Linked DNA regions of Homo sapiens. The protein of the gene in region 1 purifies or fractionates together with the protein of each later gene. This does not show direct contact. Each region holds a gene or a part of one and is shown in the gene's direction. Other genes may lie near its edges.

Region 1 (3,500 bases):
TTGTAGCATGTACTAGAACTTCATTATTTTAGGGCTAGATAATATTCTATTATATGATTATATTTTGTTTATCCATTTATCATCTCATGGACATTTTTGGACATGATTAATAATACTGCTGTGAGCATTTGTGTACACATTCTTGTGTGGACGTAGTTTCCATTTCTCTTCGGTATGTACCTGGAAGTGAAATTCCTGGGTCATATGGTAATCTATATTTAACTTTTTGAGGAACTGCAAAACTCTTTCCAAAGTTCTTACACCATTTTACATTTGTGCCACCAGAAATGAATGAGGGTTCCAATTTCTCTGCATCCTTGCCAACACTTGTTCTTGTCTGTCTTTTTTATTGTAGCCATCCTGGTGAGTTTAAAATGACTTGGAACTAGTGGCTAATGATGTTGAGCATCTTTTCATGTGCATATTTGCCACTCATATATCCTCTTTGGAGAAGCATCAGATCCTTTGCCTATTTTTAAATCAAGTCATTAGTCTTTTTTTTTTGAGATGGAGTCTTGCCCTGTTGCCCAGGCTGGAGTGCTAGTGGCACGATCTCAGCTTACTGCAACCTCTGCCTCCCAGGTTCAAGCGATTCTCCTGCCTTAGCCTCCCAAGTAGCTGGGATTACAGGCTCCCACCACCACACTTAGCTGGATTTTTGTATTTTTAGTAGAAACGGGGTTTCACCATGTTGGCCAGGCTGGTCTTGAACTCCTGACCTCAGGTGATCCACCCACCTTGGCCTCCCAAAGTGCTGGGATTACAGGCTTGAGCCTCCGCGCCTGGCCGTCATTAGTCTTTTTATTGATGAGTGGAAGAGTTCTTTATTCTGGATACAAGCTGTCCTTATCAGATAAATGATTTGCAAATATTTTCTCCCATTGTGTGGGTTGTCTTTTCACTTTACCTGATCTTCGTGGTTTATTGAATTAAATCCATTCTTTTGGTCATTATTTTTAAAACCCTATCTGTGCACTCCTTTTTAAAATTCCCTGTGTGTGCAGTCTTATTTTCATTCACAACAGTAATTTAGTTTTTTGCTAGGCTAGTCTCTTTTCTGTTAGCTTTCATTCCAGGTCCAATCCGTGTTTATTTCTGTTCTCCTGCCCATAATCTACCTCGCTCTCTCTCTGCCTTTGCAAATTTCTAGCCATTCCCTCTCTTAAGACCATCCCCTGTTGTTTCACTTCATACTGATATTCCTCTCTACTTTACTCATTTCATACGTACATGGTGGTTGTCCCACTAACATGATTTATGGCATTTAATTATGTGATGACTTTCATTGTTGCTTGATAACATAAACGTGTGAATCGTGTGAATTCATGTATGGAGATACATGAATCTCCTGATCTCCTGCTTAGAGGTCAGGAACTTTGTCCTTCTTTTTTGTTTCTCTCAGTGCCTACATGATAACTTCCAGTGCACACATGAGCTGTAATATAAACCCACACTTGAAAATGGGTATATCCATTTTCTCATTTTAGCTGAAACGTATTTGAAAGAACCATTTTTCTCATTTTAATCGAAATTCAGAAAAAGCAGACGACCTGGATTTTGTCCTGTAGGACCACATGAAGCAAATTGTCTTTAATTCTCAAAGCCGCATTCTCTGCTAGGAGTCGGGGCCATAATTACAATGGATTAGCTACTTTTGGTTCCCTGTCTAAATGGCTTTTACTATTTGCTTTAAAATACCCTGTAAAGAAATCATTAAATCCAGAATATTGAGAGAGCAAAATCAGTGGGCTCCAGATATTGCAAGCAGAGGGGAGGATATCTTCAAAAGTGTTTTGTCCAGTACTTTTATGAAGAAGTTCAGACTGATATTTTTGTTGTTTTTTACAGCCAAAACAAATTTCAAGAAAACATTGAGTTGTTTGGGTTAGTTTTTATAGTATCACTTCTCAGTAAGGAAATATGATTCATCTGTTGAGTCCTAAAACTATCCCAAATTTTAGATTATTGAGTCAAAAGACTCTAGATGGAAGATTGATATTTATATCTCATAGCAAAAAGAAAAAATAGCAATCTGCGAAGTCAGATTTCCCATCTCTGATTATAAAACTATATATTTTAATAACCCTTAACTGTTTATGGTAATACCTGCAGTTTCTTGACTTCATATTGCAGTTGCTATTCATCTGAATTGTGTTTGTTCATCCGTTAAATACTTACTAAGCTCCTGCTCTCTATGCCAGGAACACACAAATAAATAAATGTAAGACTATCTCTGCCCTAACAGAACTCCTAGCTTCATGGAGGAGACAAATGAGTCAGGAGAGAAATCCTAGCTGCATTCTTTTTTATATATCATAACATAAAATTGTATTTTATATTATACTATTGGTTACAAATATATTTTATAAATTAGGATATACTTCAGACAGCATTTTGATATTGTCTTGAAATGCAAATTTTAAGTGCAGACTGTTGGTAATTTATTTATTTATTTATTTATTTTGAGACAGAGTTTTGCTCTGTCGCCCAGGGTGGAGTACAGTGGCATGATCTCAGCTTACAGCAATCTCCACCTCCAAGGTTCAAGTGATTCTCCTGCCTCAGTCTCCCAAGTAGCTGGGATTACAGGTGCCCACCACCACGCCCAGCCAATTTTTGTATTTTTAGGAGAGATGGGGTTTCACCACGTTGGCCAGGCTGGTTTCGAACCCCTGACCTCAAGTGATCTGCCTGCCTCGGCCTCCCAAAGTGCTGGGATTATAGGTGTGAGCCGTCATGCCTGGCCTGTTGCCAATAATTTTAAATGCAAAATAACATTGTCTATATTTATAATTGGGTATTTCTTACATATGCTCACATCAACCTGAAGAAAATTAAAGTCAAGGTTTTTCTACAAAAAGTTATGCAGTCTGTATGTTCAGAGTGCATTTAGAATTGACATCTATCTCTCTCTTATTTTTCCTCTTTTCAGGGTTATTATATTATGCAGGACATGGTTATGAAAATTTTGGGAACAGCTTCATGGTCCCCGTTGATGCTCCAAATCCATATAGGTCTGAAAATTGTCTGTGTGTACAAAATATACTGAAATTGATGCAAGAAAAAGAAACTGGACTTAATGTGTTCTTATTGGATATGTGTAGGAAAAGGTAAGTTTTCTAATCTTTATTAAAGAATTGTTGGAGTTAAATATCGACCATGACAAACTAGAGAAACCTGTGAAATGCTAAAAGCCATTTGCGTTTGTGAATTTTAGTTTATACATTGAAACTGGAAGAACAAAACTAGAGGAAAATACATTTACTCCATGTATATCTAATTATTTTAACTCTTCATATTTGCTATAGAACACAAATGAAGAACTAAAGGGCATGGGCATTTACTCACACTACAGGGGATTCAACTCTCCAGAATGCCTTTAGATGACTTTAATAATCACTATAGTTATTCCCTCAGGAATTAACAAAACCAACACCCATGGAGTTGGGATCTCTGCTCACTAGTCAGTCCTGGTCTTCCAGACATGGAATGAGTAGCCG
Region 2 (3,500 bases), on another chromosome or scaffold:
AAATTATGGCCAGGTGCAGCTGCTCACGCCTATAGTCCCAGCACTTTGGGAGGCTGTGGCGGGCAGATCACCTGAGGTCGGGAGTTTGAGACCAGCCTGGCCAACATGATGAAACCCTGTCTCTACTAAAAATACAAAAATTAGCCGGGCGTGGTGGTGTGTGTCTGTCATGCCAGCTACTCAGGAGGCTGAGACAGGAGAATCGCTTAAACCCAGGAGGTGGAGGTTGCAGTGAGTCAAGATTGCGCCATTGCACTGCAGTCTGGGTGACAGAACGAAACTCCATTACAAAAAAAAAAAGAGAGAAATTATGCTCAAGGCCGAGCAAGGTGGCTCACGCCTGTAATCCCAGCACTTTGGGAGGCTGAGGTGGACAGACTGCTTGAGCCCAAGAATTTGAGACCAGCGTGGGCAACATGGTGAGACCTTGTCTCTACAAAAAAAAAATAAAAAAATTAGCTGGGCATGGTTCTGCACACTTGTAGTTCCAGCTATTCAGGAGGCTGAAGTGGGAGGATTGCTTGAGCCTGGGAGATTGAGACTGCAGTGAGCCATGATTGTGCCACTGCACTCCAGCCCGGGTGACAGAGTAAGACCTTGTCTCAAAAAAAAAAAAAAAAATTATTTTCAAGATTTGATTAACCTTTACCTTGATCTTGCTAATGGGCAACTGTGGCCCATTTCACAGATGCCTCATCCCAAAGGCGACCTCATCAGGAGAGACACTTAAAGGACTGGTTGTCTAAATGAGAGGGAATAGAATTTGAATCAAAAAGCAAATGAGAAAAGGAGTGAAATATTGCTGTGGTCCTTTTTGAAAGTAAACCTCTGAAATTCATTGCTCTTTTGAAATTGTGTATCTTGTTTTTAAAGTGCATTTCCCCCCCTTCCTTAAATTTTAAGGTGGAAGGAGATACAGTCACCTTCTCCTTTGAAATGAGAAGTGGCCGTGAACACAACACTCCTGATAAAGCCATGTGGGGCTTTGCTTGCACAGTTCGCGCTCAGGTACTTGAATCTAACCACTGCCGTGGACAAAATGTACTATCTGCTATGTGCCTTGATTACATACAGCATATTTGCCTTGGAAACAGGGCAGAATATGAGTCACTCTTTCATCTTTCTCTTCTAGTTGGCACTAGTCAACTACTAGCAGTTAGTAGTACTTTTACAGAATAAAACTAGCCATGACCTAAAATCAACTCAGCAGCACAGAAATAAATCTATTGATTGGAGCTCCCTCTTCAAAGTTTGGGGAGGTGACCTGACCCCAGCATCTTTCCACAGGGCAAAGAGGACTCAATAGAACTTAATAGAAATAAGCACTTAGATCCTGGGTTTTAAGAGTAGTTAAGCATCCGGCTGGGCGTGGTGGCTCACACCTGTAATCCCAGCACTTTGGGAGGCTGAGGCAGGTGAATCAGCTGAGGTCAGGAGTTCGAGATCAGCCTGGCCAACTTGGTGAAACCCCGTCTCTACTAAAAATACAAAAATTAGCCAGATGTGGTGGTGGGCACCTGTAGTCCTAGCTATTCGAGAGGCTGAGGGAGGAGAATCGCTTGAACCAGGAGGCAGAGATTGCAGTGAGCTGAGATCATGCCACTGTACTCCAGCCTGGGTGATAGAGTGAGACTCCGTCTCAAAAATTAAAAAACAAACAAACAAACAAAAAACAGAGTACTTAAGCATCCTACTTACCCCTCCAGTTGCCTGATTCCGAAAACGTATTTTAGACTTTGAGGTTTCTTAAGCTTAACCAAGCTAAGACTCTCCAGAGTGGCATTAACTGCTAGAATGTAAGCTCCGTGAGAGCAGGGATCTTCATTTCATTCTCTGATGTATCTCAGGCACCTAGAACAATGGCTGGCACACAGAGGACACCCAGTAAATATTTCTTGAATGAATTCACTGCAGTCATTGACAACATCACAGTTTGAGCACAGGGTGGAAGTGAAAAAACAAAATAGTGATTTATACTTAGGTGGGCACAACAGAGAGGAAGCTATCAAAGAATCAGGCTTCTTTATTTCATTTGTACTATTTATTTGATTTGTACTATTGTATATGGGGTCTGATCAACTATTTTCTCTCCAGAAATGTGTTGAGACTTCACTCTGGTCATTCCAGTGCCACCATCTAGTCATGATTTGGGTGCTGTACCTGTGTCCCCTAGCAGTGATACTCGATGCTGCTCTGTAGAACCCTGTGGTTGGGGACAGTGCAGTGTGGGGCAGCACAGGTAGCAGCCTCTGCCAGTGTACACTGACCAGTGTGGTTTACCCCTGTCTGCATTGTAGGAGTCTTCGGAGGATGTCTCAGGAGGCTTGCCCTTTCTGGTAGACCTGGCTTTAGGTCTGTCTGTGTTAGCTTGTTCCATGTTAAGAATCCTGTACAATGGACCAGAAATTACCAAAGAAGAAGAAGCCTGTCAGGAGCTATTGCGGTCCAAACTTTTACAAAGGTAACAAAAAGGTTGAAATTGAGCTAGTGTTGCCTGCAAAGGAAAAAGGACTTTATGTGGAAAAATCCTTTTGGTACATTTCCCAGGTGATTGTGCCTACTGCCTGGCAATCTCATGGGTGTCATTGTGTCTAAGAAAAATAAGATGAAAATTACACCATAGTGCTTTCTGGCCCTTACTTTACTAAATTTAAAATTACATCTTTGAACTGCATAAGCTTTTCTCCAACACAATTATTGTCTAATTAAATTGAATGATCCCAAGAGGATGGGTGGATGTGTGATAAAGCAAACACAGCAAATGTTTATTGTACAATCTAGACAAGTGTGTCTGTGGATATTAACCATGTCATTCTTTCAGCTTTTCTGTACATTTAAAAGTTTTAATGATTAAATATTGGGGGGGAGCTAGATCCCCAAAGATGGGCTTTCATACAATGCTCACTTGTCTTTAGCTTCTGGAGAAGGTTTGATGAGTAATTACTTAACACAGAATGTGATCCTTCATATGTTTGATGTATCTGCAAACATCCAATAGCTTTCCAATACTCTTGTTGAGAGAGGAAGTGAAGAGCCTCTTTTCTGTCTGCTCAGGTGCCAGTGGCAGGTGGAGGCCAATGGCGTGATCTCCCCTGCCCTTACTCCGAGCCCCTCTCCACTGCCTCTGACCATAGAGGAAGACAGAGAATTCACCTACCCCTCTGATGTCCTCGTGCCTCCTGTTGGAAACTACTTTGATCTGCCTCGGATCAGACTGCCTCCAGGAATCATGATAAAGCTCAGGGAAATTTCTGGGCGTGCTAGACCTCAATTTAGACCAAGTATAAAGTATGTTGCTGTGTAGTGTTTTACTTTTCCCAATGGGAAAAAAAAGTTTAAACAATTGAAATGGGTATATTTCTTCTGTGGTCTAGTAAATGAAACTTTAATTTTATGTTTACTCCATGAATGTTAAAATTAACTGAGTCTAGAGGGCCCACCAGGCAGTATTCCAGACTAGGGGCTCTCAAAATTTGGCCCACCAGTCAGCAGCATTGGCA

What was found. Proteins that work in one complex are often made in the same cells at the same time.
Region 2: the proteins of MALT1 (region 1) and HECTD4 purify together in Homo sapiens (affinity purification with western blotting, with the first as the bait; one study listed by BioGRID). This does not show direct contact.

What each region holds. Positions count from the first base shown.
Region 1 is NC_000018.10:58,730,465-58,733,964, forward strand, and holds part of MALT1 (mucosa-associated lymphoid tissue lymphoma translocation protein 1), read left to right. Parts: intron 1-2,932; coding exon 2,933-3,110; intron 3,111-3,417; exon of another isoform or gene 3,418-3,500. UniProt on the Homo sapiens protein: Protease that enhances BCL10-induced activation: acts via formation of CBM complexes that channel adaptive and innate immune signaling downstream of CARD domain-containing proteins (CARD9, CARD11 and CARD14) to activate NF-kappa-B and MAP kinase p38 pathways which stimulate expression of genes encoding pro-inflammatory cytokines and chemokines.
Region 2 is NC_000012.12:112,249,932-112,253,431, reverse strand, and holds part of HECTD4 (probable E3 ubiquitin-protein ligase HECTD4), read left to right. Parts: intron 1-873; coding exon of another isoform or gene 874-903; coding exon 904-1,008; intron 1,009-2,297; coding exon 2,298-2,461; intron 2,462-3,054; coding exon 3,055-3,288; intron 3,289-3,500.